Linked DNA regions of Homo sapiens: regions 2 and 3 are each linked to region 1. The links come from fine-mapping of genetic effects on gene expression. A gene starts in region 1. Each other region holds a variant in brackets. All regions are shown on one strand. Distances are between the middles of the regions.

What was found. PIP is the estimated chance that this variant, and not a neighbour inherited with it, causes the effect.
Region 2: its variant is fine-mapped to the expression of METTL22 in whole blood (INTERVAL, PIP above 0.99).
Region 3: its variant is fine-mapped to the expression of METTL22 in skeletal muscle (FUSION, PIP 0.95).

What each region holds. Positions count from the first base shown.
Region 1 is chr16:8,619,234-8,624,457 of GRCh38, forward strand. METTL22 (methyltransferase 22, Kin17 lysine) reads left to right here and starts at 2,465. Exons shown (of 11, transcript NM_024109.4): 1 at 2,465-2,542.
Region 2 is chr16:8,641,827-8,647,050 of GRCh38, forward strand. METTL22 (methyltransferase 22, Kin17 lysine) reads left to right here. Exons shown (of 11, transcript NM_024109.4): 8 at 301-381; 9 at 637-739; 10 at 2,731-2,899; 11 at 4,282-5,224. The coding sequence ends at 4,317. Among named protein-coding and RNA genes, the nearest start is that of METTL22, 23 kb to the left of the region's middle. The variant G/C (reference allele first, on the strand shown) is at 2,530.
Region 3 is chr16:8,653,351-8,658,574 of GRCh38, forward strand. It overlaps a transcript of METTL22 not described here. Among named protein-coding and RNA genes, the nearest start is that of ABAT, 19 kb to the right of the region's middle. The variant G/T (reference allele first, on the strand shown) is at 2,896.

The sequences.
Region 1 (5,224 bases):
GCACTTTGGGAGGCCAAGGCGGGCAGATCACGTGAGGTCAGGAGTTTGAGACCAGCCTGGCCAACATGGTGAAACCCCGTCTCTACTAAAAATACAAAAATTAGCTGGATGTGGTGGCACACGCCTGTAATCCCAGCTACTCAGGAGACTGAGGCAGGAGAATTGCTTGATCCAGGGAGGCAGAGGTTGCAGTGAGCTGAGATGGCGTCACTGCACTCCAGCCTGGTCGACAAATGGAGACTCTGTCAAAAAGAAAAAAGAAAAGAAAAGAAAACGTGAGTCTGCGTCTCACTGGCTAGGTAACACTGAGCAAGGCACTTCACCTCTCTGAGCTTCGGAATGGGTGTGAGAATGAAACAAAACCACAAGATGAAGGGGCCAGCAGTGTGCCTTGTTTATAACTGAGGCTCCGGAACTGAGGGCCCCCTCCCGCACTCCCCCAGCTACCATCTCTTTGCAGCCCTGCCAAGAAGGGCTGGCTTTCTTTCCCCTTACCTGGTGACCTATTACTGTGTTGCAAACCACCTCAAAATTTGTGGCAGAAATGATAACCCTTTTGGGGCCATCTGGGCTGCTATAACAGAATACCATACATGGGGTGGCTGATAAACACATTCATTTCTCATGGTTCTAGGGGCTGGAAAGTCCAAAATCAAGGCACTGGCAGATTCTGTGTCCAATTCTTGGTCATAGATGGCTGTCTTTTTGCCGTGTCCTCACATGACAGAAGAAGTGAGGCAGCTCTTTGGGGCCTCTTTTGTAGGGGCACTAATCCCCTATAAAAGATTATAGGTTTGACAAGAGGAGGAATGTGATCTTTTGATTTTTAAGGGTCATTCCCCCGGTTTAAATTTGAAGACAAAACTCCCAAGGGTGTGAACAATGCCTTCCTAGTGCCCTCCCCACCACTCAACATCCTCTGGGGATAACTAAGAGAACCCTCAGCGAACTAGAGAGAAAACTATGAATAGAATCTGGTCCCAAGACACCCAACTGGCTCTCTGTGTACTGTCCTGGGGGATTTCAGGAAACATAATCTGTTTCTTAAAAAAAAAAAAAAAAAAAATTCTTATTTGTGTCGCTTAGTCACCCTATCAACTCTCCACGTTTTATCATCAGTAACCATGAAATTGATGTTGATTTAATTCTATTTTGAAAAGAGAAAAAAAAGTAATTTAGACAAAGGTTGCCAGCTGAGGCCATGTGTGTGCGTGTGTGTATATGTGAACACACAGGGATATAGATTTTACATATGTGGACTTTACATATGTTCCTGTGTGTATATTTGTATGTTCACTGACATGTCTGAGAGTGAGCACCACTGTGTGTGTCTGGGCATGTCTGTGAACACGTCAGTGTGGTGTATATCCCTGGCAGCTCCCCATCTCACGCACAGTAAAATCCAAAGTTCTTAGAATGTCACAAAAGTTCTAACCCTGGCTACCTATGTATCCTCGTTTCCTGCGGCCCATCCCCTGGCTTACTCCATTGTGGCCAGGCTGACTTCCATGATGTCACTGAATATATAGATTGAGAAAAGGGCCAATATTATTGACTGTACTTTTTCTAAAAATGCAGTGACTCAGGCAAGAGACGTGAGAATCTGTGGTCTATCCTGCTCATCCTCTTCAGGGGATTCTTCTGAGGGCTGTGCTCAGTCACGGACTCAGAGGCTTTCTGAAATTCTGCAGGCAAGAAAAAACGAGCAAACATGGAGTCTTATGTTTGCCACTCTGTCTCACCCCCTTGGTGTTGGAAACTTGATGAGCATACGAATTAACGAAATCACTACCACCTAATGAAATCACTACCACCTATTAATAATAACAAGTACTGGCTGGGCGTGGTGGCTCATGCCTGTAATTTATGAGCTTTAGGAGGCCGAAGCAGGAGGACTGCTTGAAGCCAGGAGTTTGAGACCAGCCTGGGCAACACAACAAGATACAGTCTGTACAAAAAAAAAAAAAAATGGTGCCACGCAACTGTAGTCCCAGCTACTAGAGAGGCTGAAACAGGATTCCTTAAGCCCAGGAGTTCAAGGCTGCAGTGAGCTAAAATTGCGCCGCTGCACTCCAGCCTGGGTGACAGAGCAAGACCATCTCAAATAAACAAACAAACAAACAAACGAGTACTAAGAGCATGGATGACGGTAACACCCGTGATAATAAATACAGTAGCATGCTGGTTAAATAGCACCGGCTCTGATCCCACACCCCGGGTTCGAATCCAGGCTTTACCACTTAGTAGCTGGGAGAGTTATTTAACTCCTATTTAAGTCTTTTAGAGGAATGAGTTTAGCCACCTAGGCGGGTCCCCCCAGCAAACACGCCTCGCCCGCGACCAGAGCGAAGGCTACAGGTGCCCGCCGGCAACCCTCGGACGCATGCGCGGCCCGGGCAGGTAGGTGGAGCCACGGTGCGGGGCAGTCGGATGGTCGCACGCGGGGGCGGGGCCGCGCCTGCGCAGACCGCCTGTTATGGCGGCCGCCTAAGTCCCACAGAGACGGGAGTCGGGTGGGATCCCAGGCTGGGCCCCGCGGCGGGTAAGTGCCTGGGAGAGGCGGCGGGATAGGGTAGGGTGCAGGGAACCTCCTGGCGCCGAGCCTGACTTTGAAATCCGAGCTCCCACAGATCGGAGGCCCAGATCCCTAAGGCCCGACCCCACTCTTAGCGTCAGTTTCCCCTTCTCAACACGGGTGTTGGGGAAAGAAGTCCACGTCCTCACCTGGGTTTCCATCCTGGGTCCAGGCACCTCTCCTTCGGTTCTAGATTAGGAAGGGAGGGCAGTGCCCGACCTGTGACTGTTTTTTGAGAGGGCAATAGTTAACCCACAAGGGTGGCGTCAGGAAGGCGACAAGACAAAGAGAACGAGTAGCCCCACGGGGGACGTCCCCGGAGCCCCTCACTACCACTCTACGCACCGTGGCCAGGCCACGTCTTTCCTGCCCCCAGCCTGGGCCTTCACACCCTGCCCTCCCCAGCTCCTGGCCTAAATCGTCATGGGATCGCGCCAAATTATTGATTGTTGAGTGAGTTGCAGTTATCAGAAAGAAAGATGAGGAGGGAAGTTATTTCAACACCGTGATCCCAGCACACTGCTTATTTGGGACAACTGACTGGGGACCTATAGGAGAAGAAAGCTGGTAGCGTCTCAGTCTAGCCCCCACAGCCTTAGAAGAGCCAAGAACACGTTAGCTCCTGCTGCAGGGATGAGCCTGCAGCCCTATGGAGAGGTGGTGGGGCAGGTCCCCATCTGCAACCTGGGTCTCCTTTCTCAGCTCTGCCCAGTAAAGAGAGGAGCCCGAAGCCCATACAGACCCTGCATTTCCGGAAAGAGACTTTTCCTGACTAGAGAAACTGTTACCTTTTTTCTTTCTTCCCAGCATTCACTTTAATCATTATTATATTACTATAATGATAGTATTTACTATTGTTGCTTATTGAACGTTTACTATATGTCGTAAGCCCGAAAAGTGGTAATTGTCTCATATACTCCTCTGAGTATATGAGGGCCTGAGATAGGTTCAAGAGGGCCTCCTTATTCCCAGATAGCTGATTCTAGGGAAAGCCACTTAAAGGGAATCTCCTTCATCTGGAACTTACATTGCAGCGTACATTTCTTGGGAAGCCTGGTTGGGTTGAATTTAAAAATGGAAAATTCAACTAGAGATTAAGAATTTGAGTTTTTTTGTGTGTGTCTATACTTAAAATTTGGTGTGTAATATTATGCTCACTTTTGGAAAAAGCAAAGAACATTGATTTTTCTGGGATGTAAGTTTTCCAACAAAATTGCGCTATAGGCCATGCCTGGTGGCTCACACCTATAATCCCAGCACTTTGGGAGGCCAAGGTAGATGGATCTACCTTGGTCAGGAGTTCAAGACTAGCCTGGCCAACATGGCAAAACCCCATCTTTACTAAAAATACAAAAATTAGGTGGACATTGTGGTGCATGCCTGTAGTCCCAGTTACTCGGGACTCTGAGGTAGGATCACTTGAGCCCAGGAGGCGGAGGTTGTAGTGAGCCGAGATGGCACCACTGCACTCTAGCCTGGGCAACAGAGTGAGACTCTGTCTCAGAAAAAAAAAAAAAAATGCGCTATGGCAAAAAAAGAAATGGCATCCTTTGGTTCACTTTTGATTTTTACAGCAATATTAGAGAGGATCTTCCCCACCCCCTTCAAAAAAAACTGTATGTGAAAGTCCTCAGTTTTCCCCCAGGACATCTCTAAGTCCTGAGAGAGCTTGATCTGCCTTTGAAATGAGTGGTAGGTATAAGCTGTATTTTCTCTTCTGGAATCTGGTGTGGTTTTGCCAGTCCGATTGATTGAGTGTTGGCCTTCAGGTCCAGCATTTCTCCATCACTTTCAATGACACCATGAAATTCTGCATTGATTTGCCAGATTCACAGACTTTCTTTACAACCCACTTGCATTTTGATGGCTTTATGGTGTTGAGTAGGAAAGCTAGCATGGAGATGAATAAGGAATCATCTTTTTCTTAAAAATTTTTTTGTTGGGACAGCTTTTGCTGCCCCACAGCAACCACTTAAATGTAGGAACTCCAGCAGTGTACTGGGATCATTAGGACAGCCTGAGTCATGATGACCTCATTTTGCAGTTGAAGAAGTGGGGGCCCTGAAGATTTCATGACATCTACCCAGGTAGGAACAGCTCCTATAGGCAGTCAGGGGTTACAGGCAGGTTTGGGTCAAATACCTGAAACCAACCCCAGGACAAGGAGGTTGCTGGTGTTTTATTAACACCTACTGTGAGCCAAGGACTCTGCTCAGCAGTTTACCCACCCAGTAACACTGCGTGAGATTGTGGCTGAAGAAACAGATGCAGAGAGGCGAAGTGATTTTCCTGAAATCACATGGCTAGAAGGTGAGAAACCAGGGATCCCCACCTGGTCTGTCCAGCTTCAAAGCCCATCAGACTACTGCTGTTTGATGATGCTTTTTGATTAGGTGAAACGGTTGGAGGGAGGTCCCACCTGTTCTTGACCACTTTGCCTCAGCCATGGTTTTCCAAGTTTTAGTTATTAATGTGTCACCTGCATAATTTTGCCATATCTGTGTATCACCAGTGTAGTGACTCCCTTACTACTTTTCCTTTAAATCCACTCACTCTTTTTTTTTTTTTTTTAATTTCTTTTTGAGACAGGGTCTTGCTCTGCCACCCAGCCTGGAGTGCAGAGTGCAGTGACGCATTCTCAGCTCACTG
Region 2 (5,224 bases), 23 kb after region 1:
AGGGGGAGATCATGTCCTGCACTGGGCCACAGGCCAAGGCAGCGGGTGAGGCTGAAATCCGCCCGCTGCTCACTGGCTAGAGCAGACACTCAGCAGAAAAGGCACCTCTTCCACCATGACTCTGCACCCGGGCAGCAGTGGGCCTGAAGCAGGGAGTCTGGTCTGCCTGGTGGTGCCCACTGCACCGAGCTACCCCCAGCCCTGTTTCTTCTCTTGAAGTGCCTTTTGGTCAGTCCCAGTGAGAGTTGGTGGCCAGGAGAGAAGGCAATGGGCACAAAGTGTGCTTTTGTTCTTTCTTAGATCCCAAGGTCCCCTTCAGTTGGTCACAAGAGGAAATTTCTGACTTGTACGATCACACCACCATCCTGTTTGCAGCCGAAGGTAAGAAAATTTCTCCTTCGCCGTACACGTCCTTTGTTGTAGCATGAAGTCAAGTGCAGTCTCTCCTCACTTCCCCCGGGAGTTCAGTTTTAGAAGTGACTTTCTGGTACATGCCACCACATCTGCAGTTTTAATTCTGGAAGCTGCTGCTGTTCCGTGGTGATAAGCATTCTCTCTGTGCGGATTGCTCTGAAAAGTCGATTTCTGTAATATTTGCGTGTTTTCCTCTAATGCTGGCCTTTTTGCTTCCCACAGTGTTTTACGACGACGACTTGACTGATGCTGTGTTTAAAACGCTCTCCCGACTCGCCCACAGATTGAAAAATGCCTGCACAGCCATACTGTCGGTGGAGAAGAGGTGAGCTTTGCGCCACGGGAACCGTGCTGACGTCCCGAGTGTCAGCGGAACTCTCACCTCCTAATTGTGTCCTTGTCAGTGTCATTATGATTGTTACTCAGTGCCACTTATTGAGCACCTACTATGTGCCAGGTCTGTGCTCATCCTTTGTGTACGTTACTGCACTGAATCTGCATCCTAGCCCTGTGTGCAGGCGCTGCTGTCCCACTTGACTGATGAAGAGAGGAAGGCTGGGAAGCATCAGGGGCCTTGGCCAGGGCACGGCTAGTTAGTGATAGACAAGGACTTGAATGCAGACTGTACTGGAACCTCAACGCTTGGCCAGCACACACTGTTGAGAGCTTCTCTTCCTGAATGTTCTCTCTGTGGTGCCGTCTGTCTCTTCAGCTCCCCCAGGTCTCTTTCTCTTGCTGAATCGGACAGCTCCTCACCCAACAGCCTCACCCAGACATTTCCACTAGAATATCCTGAAATGTTAGGTTCCATTTATTGAGTGCCCACCTTGTGATAGCTACACACATTCTCCTGTAATACTTAACAGTAGTCCACAGCTTTTCTGAAGATCGTTCGGAATCCACAGCAAAAGCTGTAAAACGAAACAGACTTCTTCACCCAGCAATTCAGCATCTGGAAATTCACACTCAGGGTTGTGTACAAAGCTGTATGTACTTGCATATTTATTGCAGTGTTACTTATACCAATAATACCGAGGGCTTGCTTTGAGGCACACACTGAGCAATAGCAATGTACAGACCTCATTTGGATCCTGATTTCATAAACTGTAAAGGAAAAACATCAGGACAGTTGGGAAAAGTTGAATACTGAATATTTGATGTTAAAGGGTGATTGTTAAACTTTAGTTGAAGAGGTCTTCATCTTCTTGAGACACACACTGACATTTCCAGCTTCACAGAGGAAATGGGTTGGTGTCTGGCATTTGCTTTTTAATAACTCAGTGAGGGCAGGGGGCCCCGGGAAGAGCCAAGGTGGCAGAGTGGCTGGAAGTGGACAGTGGCTGAAGCTGGTAATGGGTTCATTAGACAGTTTTGTTTTTTTTGTTTTTTTGAGGCAGAGTCTTGCCCTGTCAGCCCAGGCTGGAGTGTGATGGTGCGATCTCGGCTCAGCACAAGCGCCACCTCCCGGGTTCACACCATTCTCCTGTCTCAGCCTCCCAAGTAGCTGGGATTACAGGCATGCGTCACCACACCTGGCTAATTTTTGTATTTTTAGTAGAAACGGGGTTTCACCATGTCGTCCAGGCTGGTCTCAAACTCCTGACCTCAGGTGATCTGCCCTCCTCGGCCTCCCACAGTACTGAGATTACAGGTGGGAGCCACCACGCCCAGCATAGACTGTTCTTACTCCTGTTGCATGTCTGGAATTTTTCTTGATAAAAAAATTTGGAAAGAAAAGGGAAAAAGGCAAAGAGCTTTAATTTCAAGTGAAACCATCTTGTAGACTAAGGTTTTGAAAGGCAAGTGGCAGGGTTGGGAGACCTGTTTCTGAAGGTGCTCACTCTCTGAAATCTCTCAGACCCCAGCTTCCCAGCAGTTTTCTCTCTGTTCTCTGTGCTCCCGGAGTCCTCTGCACCGCCCCCTGCCACTGCCTCTCATTCATTCATTTCTCAGATAGTTATGCGCAGCTCCAGGCACCAGATTCTGTGCTGGGTGCAGGCAGGACCTGGAGGGCGTCCTCAAGTGTTGATCTGCAGGACTGTCTTGATCTTTCCAGCAGTGTCATTGTGGGCACGTGACCTGAGCTTTCTGAGCCTGTTTCCACATCTGTAAAGT[G/C]CTATCCACTTCCACCTCCTGGGCTGTCGTGCAGATGTAGGAAGGAATTGCACTCACACACTCAGCATGAGACAGGCGCTCAGTAAAAGCCCGTCCAGGGGATATGAGATCAGTGAGGGATAGGAAAGCAAGGTGGGCAGAAACAGCAAAACCCTTCCCATTGATGATGGCAGTTTGTGCGTCCGACTGGCTGGTTTGCAGGCTCAACTTCACATTGAGACACTTGGACGTCACATGTGAAGCCTACGATCACTTCCGCTCCTGCCTGCACGCGCTGGAGCAGCTCGCAGATGGCAAGCTGCGCTTCGTGGTGGAGCCCGTGGAGGCCTCCTTCCCACAGCTCCTGGTTTACGAGCGCCTCCAGCAACTGGTAGGTCCAGGCCCCGAAGCAGGGCCGTTGGTTGCTTTACTGTGAAGCGGGTGACTCCAGGGCAAAGAGGTGATGAAGCAAGCCCTCCAAGCACAGGCTCCACCCTAGTCCTGCAGGGGGTGAAGCCTGCGTGCCTGGCACCATCTGTAGTGGAACCTGTTGGGGGAGCTACATCCTGTTCTTAGCAGCCACCATGTCTGGAGACGGGCCTACAGGCGAACCTTGTCTTTTACTTTATAGCACATATTCCCCCCGTTGGACAGTTCAGACTCCAGAGGAGGCAAGACCGAGGCAGAGGTTGTTTGGGGAACAGGAAGTCAGTGGAGGGAAGTTTGTGGGTTGCAGATCTTGGTGCAGGCGCCCCGCTGTGGTGGCCGCTGCTCACATCTTCACTGTGGAAGGATACCAGCCCCTCTCGGACTGAACTGGCTTTTCTATTAACTGGAGTCCAAAGATTGAGAATTAACTTCTTTTGTTCTGTTTGCCTTTTGGCTGTGGCCTCCCTTTCTCTATGTCTGTGGAGACCCGGGCCTAGTTCTAAGGAAAAAGGGAGGAAGAGGGAGTCACGAGGAGCTGCCGCCCTTGCACTCTGTCTCGCGTCCTGAGGGAGGGCAGCATGGAATTCGTGTGGTTTTGTGTGCGAGGAGGATCTTGTATTTATTGCTCTGCCACTTCTGGGCAGCATTAAGAGTAGCGTCACATGACCAAGAACACACATTTCTTACAAGTCAGCAGCCCCAATACATGATGCCTAAGACGTCCCAAAAAGGCCAGGTACGGTGGCTCCCACCTGTAATCCCAGCACTCTGGGAGGCCATGGTCGGAGGGTTGCTTGAAGCTAGGAGTTCGAGACCAGCCTGGGCATCACAGACCCTATCTCGACAAAAATCAAGAAAAAAAATTAGCCATGCATGGTGGTGCACACCTGTGGTCCCAGCTACTCTGGAAGCTGAGGTGGGAGGATTGCTTGAGCCCAGAAGTTCAAGGCTGCAGCAAGCTGTGATGGTGCCACTGCACTCCAGACTGGGCAACAGAATGAGATCCTGTCTCTAAAATAAAATTGTTTATAAAGATCTCCCCCAAAATGGAGAGATACGGCAACTCACTGCTATTCTGGTCTCTTCTGATTGTTTGACATCCTCTGATGCACCTTCCGTTAATGCTGGGACTTCATCCATCCAGCCTCTCTGCCACAGTAAAATAGAACAGCCCAGAGCAACAAAGAAAGGAGGAAGCCGCCCGTCCGCTCCTGCCCCAGCTCGCCTGCTCCGTGGCTGACGTGTTGTCTAACTACTCTCCTTGGTGAATCACTTTCCTTAATGAAATTGTGATGCTCTTGTATGTGCACTTCAGAAACCTGTTCTTTTCTCTGTTTGCTGCAGGAGCTCTGGAAGATCATCGCAGAACCAGTAACATGACCCATCGCCTCCACAAGGCGCGGCGTCTCGACTGTTCTTAGAGTGTATTTCTAGTAAAATCAGAAGCTCACCAAAGCAACATGCTTGAGATTTTGTCATTTTAAAAATATGGTTACACGTACCTTAGATGACCCAAGATGGTTTTCTGGGGTCTGTCCCTGCCTCCCAGTTGTAGCCAGAGAAGGTTGTTGCTGTGGGCTGGAGGTCACTTTAGTTGCCTGTTTCTCATGGTTGTGATGTGTGCTCCAGGGTCAAGCCGAGCCACGTTCCTTCTCAGCTCAGTTCCACCCACGTCAGTCATTTCAGCTGTGTGCTTTACTTGCGGTTGCGGCCCTGGCTGTGAGGTGGATTCTTGTACTGCCCTCTGTCAGCTGTTTACAGATGGGTTGACTACCACTGCCAGTATTGCCATCATATTGCCGCTCGGCACAAAAGCCTCATTTCCTCCCAGGGTTGGGTATGCTCCACCCCATCACTCTGGTGAGGGCCCCATGAGAAGGAAGAGGCAGGAGCTGGCGCCAGGAATGGACTGGCATTGGCCTTTGTATTTAATTTTAACTCTTTATCACCCAAATCAGGTACGTTTGGAATAAACCTAAGAGCCACTCTTTGGGGTCATGTGCAGCTGACCAGGGTTTGTGCAGTGATCTTCCTCAGAGGTGTTCCCTTCCGCCTGGACTCATTTTCCCTCCGCCCCTTGGTCTCTCTGTCTTATCACGTGTGTACATGTCTGTCTGTCTGGTTTTTTATCTTCTCCATCTGTGCCTCTCTCCTCCCATCTCCACCCCTTCCTGTCATCCTCTATGTCCCACTGTCTCTCTCCTTCTCTCCAGTTTTGGTCCCATCTTCCTGCTACCCTTGGCCCTCCCTGCAGCCCCTTTCCCCTGCCTTGCTGCTGCCGCACACT
Region 3 (5,224 bases), 34 kb after region 1:
ATGGAGTTGGGTGATGTCAGGTGCCTCGGAGTCTTGGGGACAGCACCGATCTCTGTCCCCACATGGGCACACACTCTTGTCAGGCCTATCTGGCATTCAGTGATGACTTCTGTGTTGACAGGAAAATATTGATGGGATGAATGGAAAGGGTATAAAACATGGAAGAAGAAACTATTCTTTCATCAGTGATTAAAGGCAGCGGAAATAAAGCCAAGTAAAGTTCAGTGTACAAATTAATAAGGCAATCAGTCTCTATTGATTACTAGATGCCTGGTTGAAGTGGATCTTGAATTGGTTTCCCATGGGAAGGATTTGGAGATTTTAAGTGGCTGAGTGGTAATGATTAAAATCCAACTTTATTCTAAAGCTACCATACATAGTAAAGCCTTAATTAACTAAGACTCAGTTAGTTAAACCTGCTTCCCCATCATTTCCAAGGCTCAAGCTACTGAAACGTTTCAGTAGGACCAGGACTTAGAGACAGGAACACTGGGACCATCTCCTATATCTAAACACCTGGGTAGTGAGAACCCAGGAAGAAGGATGATATCAGGGAAGAATTTTGTGGAAAGCCTGACTTCAGAACCAAGCTCAATGTGGGAAGCTGAAATTGCAGTGACCCATGAGTACACCACTGCACTCCAGACTGGGTGTCAGAGCAAGACCCCATCTCAAAAAAAGAAAAAACAGGCTCAAGCAAAATGGGAGATCTCAGAGGATCGAGATGGTGATAGCCAACTGTCCTAAACATTTTAGATACATTAGCTCAGTAAATATCCCTCCACTCACGTGAGGCCCCACTTCATAGATGGGTAAACTAAGGAGGGAGTAGGCAAGGGGGCCAGGTAACTCTCCCAAGGTCACATAAGTTGTGAGGGATAGAGCCAGGCTTTGAACCTGAGAAGTTTGGCTTTATAGTCTAAGAATTTATCCCCCAGGCTCTTCACCACTCCTGGTAATTTGCTCATCATCACATAACTTATAAATGGCAGCTCTAAGGTATGTGTTTATAGGTGGAAAGTTACATACCACATGGTTAACCTTGATTAACCCCAGGGCATGGAATTGGGGGAATGGAATTGATGAGACTTTGCCCTTTATGTTATATACATGTATTTTGTTTTTACAAACATGGGTTATTTTTGTGTCTTTTTTACTAAAAATAAAGTTAAAAGAAATTAAGTACATGTGCACACATGCACGCATGCATACACACACAGCCAAAATGCTACTCTCTAACAAGAGCTGTATTTGAAAACAGATAGATCAAGCCAAGCTTTTGGGAAATAAAATTTATTTTAGCCCAAAGGTTCTAGAAAGACTCAGAGAAAAGTTCAGAGGGCAAATCATCCCTTGGGTGGGTCTGGGGCTACAAGACCCTGGGCTTGGTGCTCCTCCAACTGAGCCTCAGAATGCATAGAATGAGACTATGCCAGGCTCATCTGAACTCCATGTTGTCTGGTTCCCCAGTGGGAAATTTGTCATGTCCAGACCCAGGGGAGTGTGGCCGTGATCTGTACTAAAGGCTGAAGTTCCACCATAAGTTTTATCCATGTTTCTAGCCCATTACATTTTTACAGAGAACGCTAATGGACATAGCAGCAAACTGAAGGTGGACATAAATCCAGCCACCATGTGGGAAGGGAAAAAAGGGAGTAACTCAAACCTGCTGGGCCTCTTCCCAATAGTTAGAAGACTCTAAAATAAGCCAAGCCCTGTGTGGGGCATTGGGGAAAGGAACTGTATTATCTATTTGCTGCATGACAAAATACCCCAAAACTTAGAAGCTTAAGACAACAAACATTTATTATCTTACAGTACCTGTGGGTCATAAATCTGGGCTTAGTTTAACTGGGTGCCTCTGTCTTAAGACCTCTGCTAAGGCTACAAGGAGTTCAGCTGTGGTCTCATCTGAAGGTTCAACTAAGAGTGGATCCACATTGAGGCTCCCTCTTGTGGTTGGTGGCAGGATTCAGTTCCTCACCTGCTATGGGTCTAAGGGCCTCAGTTCCTCACTGGCTGCTGACCACAGACTTCTCTCATTTCTCTGCCATGTGGGCCTCTCTAGGGGGCCTCTGATAAAGCCAGGACATGACAGCAGCTTTCTCAGAGCAAGCATACAAGAATAGAGAGAGTTTACTGGGAGGTAACCTAATCTGAGAAGTGACACTCCGTCACTTTTGTCACATTCAGTTCTTCAGAAGTGAGTCACTAAGTCCAGCCCACACTCAAGGGGAGGGGATTACACAGAGTGGGAATACCCAAAGGTGGGATCACTGGGGACCATCTCAGAGGCTGCCCACAAGAGAGATGCAAAGGACACATCCTTGCCCTGAAGAGGCACTGAATCTGGAAGGAAGTGGGCAAGCCCGCCAGCATTGTGATGCAGAGATCGTGTTCTCATACCCACAGCTGATGTCCATTGAGCACCAACTTCCATCCAGGTGCTCTTCTAAACAAAGCCGTTCAATCTATTATCCACCTAAATGTGCAAACTAAGATTTATTTCTGAGGCATTTGGGGGATTCAGGAAGAGGAGAGGGCTGAGGGTGATGCCTAGCTTTCTGGCTTGGAGGACTGTGTCTTCTGACAAGACATAGTTCTTGAAGACTCACCACCATGCCCTCCACCAAGGTAAATTCTCCTGATGACCACATCTTTGCTCTAACACAGTGTTCTCCAAAGTATGGCGAGTTAGGATACCAGTGGTATGTGGCAGGTTTTTGTTGTTGTTGTTTTAGAGACAGGTCTCGCCATGTTGCCCACTGGAGTGCAGTGGCTATTCACAGGCATGAGCATAGTGCACCACGGCCTCGAACTGCTTGGGCTCAAACAGTCTTTCTACCTCAGCCTCCCAAGGAGCTAGGACTACAGGTGTGCACCACTGTTCCTGGC[G/T]CAGAGAGGTTTTAAGAGAAAAGCATTTTGAAGTTTATCCTATTGACATGTATGTAGCAGGATGCCACTTCCAGGGATTAGTCCTTTCCTCCACCCCCACTTCCTAAATGATTTTATTTGTACCCTGAGGGCCTTTTCCCCACTTCCCCCACAGACCTGCGTGAGTAGACCTCAGGCACCAACTGCACAACTAACTATTGGAGAAGCAAAGATTAAGCTCCAGCACAGCCACTAGGCAAAACCTGGGACACAGGGATTCTAATGTGAACTTGCAGAGTAAGATTCTCTGCTTCTGAGAAAACAGCTGTGTGGGCTGTGAAGATGGGAGAGGAGGTTTGAGACTCCAGTTACCTCAGCAGGAGAGCAGCCAGTCCCTGTCACTCCACCTTCATCTGCAGTGAGTGATGTTCCAGCAGTGCTGGCCTGGGCTGGGCTGTGCCCTGCGGCTCCAATGCCCTCCTGACAACCCAGGAAGCTGTCTTACTCCATTTTGTGCTGCTATAACAGAACACCACAGACTGGGTAACGTAATTAACAGAAATGTATTGGCTCACAGTTCTGAGGCTGGGAGGTCCAAGAGCTAAAGGCCAGCATCTGGCAAGGGCCTTCTTGCTGCATGATAGCACAGCAGAAGGCGCCACATGGTAGAACAGTAAAGAGAGGATGAGAACGAGAGAGAAGTAAACATGGGTCAAACTCGTCCTTTTATAAGGAACCCACTCCCGAGAAGACAAACCCACTCTGGTGATAACAGGATTAATCCACAGAGTCCTCTTGCCCTAATCACCTCTTAAAAGTCCCACCTCTTGATACTGTTACAATAGGAATACACTTCATCATGAGTTGTTTGGGAGGGAACAGACATCTAAACCACAGCTGAGCCCTTCTTACAGCAAGATAAGAGAGGAAGATGCCACTTCAGGGAGGATCGATGTCATTACAAGACCTCACAAAACCTGTTTGAAGTCACCCTCCAAGCTAGTCCAGTTGTTGAACCACACCATCATGCCCTGTTTTGTGTATTCTGGGAGAAAAATGTATCTTGCATTTGAAAACCAGGGACATGAAGGATATTATTCTCGGTTGAGGCTAAGTTAATAATTTGTGCGTAGTTAAATACAATATTAAGTAATAATGTAAGTGGGAAGCAGGAATAGCAAATGTCACAAAGATGGTGATCTTGGGGGCTGAAGTTTGCAAAACACCAACAATAGCTTTGCCTGTGGTTTCAGCCTTTGTCCTGTCCCTCTTTAACTAAAGGCAGGAAGACTTGTCCCCCATAAAACCAGGTTCCTTTTCGTCTACTATATGGAGTTCAAAACAATTTCAGTCAGTCCTGAGAAACTGAAGACAAAGGATGTTTTCCACCTTTTTGAAACTATAGTGGGTTGAATGGTGGCCCTAAACAAGCTATGTCCACGTTCTAAACCCCAGAACCTATGAATGGGAAACTTGGAAACATTTGAGAAAGGGGTCTTTGCAGATCTAATTAAGTTAAGGGTCTTGACAGTCGTCCTGGATTTAGGGCGGGTCCTAAATCTAATGACTGGTGTCCTTCTTTTTTCTTTTCTTTTCTTTCTTTTTTTTTTGAGACAAGGTTTCTCTCTGTCACCCAGGCTGGAGTTCAGTGGTGTGATCATAGCTCAGTGCAGCCTCAACCTCCTGGACTCAAGCTATCCTCCCATCTCAGTCTCCTGAGTAGCTGGGATACAGGCGTGTGACGCCATGCCTGGCTAATTTTGTCTGTTTTTAGCAGAGACGGGGTTTCACCATGTTGCCCAGGCTGGTCTCAAACTCCCGAGTTCAAGCAATCCTCCCACCTTGGCCTCCCAAAGTGCTGGGATTATAGGCATGAGCCACCGTGCTCTGCCCCTGATGTCTTTATAAGAGAAAGGAGAGGGAGATTTGAGAACCACAGTGAAGATGGCCTATGAAGGCAGAGATCAGAGTGATGCTGCCACATGAAGGAGCACCCGGGATCACCAGAAACTGGAAGAGGCAAGGAAGAACCCTCCCCTTGAGCCTTTGGAGGCGTGAGTCCCTGCTGACACCTTGATTGCGGACTTCTGGTTTACAGAACTGAAATAATCCATTTCCACTGTTTTAATCCCCCAGTTTGTGGTCATTTGTTACCAAAGCAAACTCATCCAGAACCCAAGGGATATAGGCTCAGAAATGTGCACCTCATGGTAAAGAAACACTACAAGCCACTGCAAAGCTGAAGGAGACAGGGAATGGGGAGGAAGTCCCCAGGCTCAATCTCAAAGATCTTGGCTGAAGCCCGGTTGCTCCTCGGCTCCAGAAGAGCTAGGTGGACATGGTATGCCTC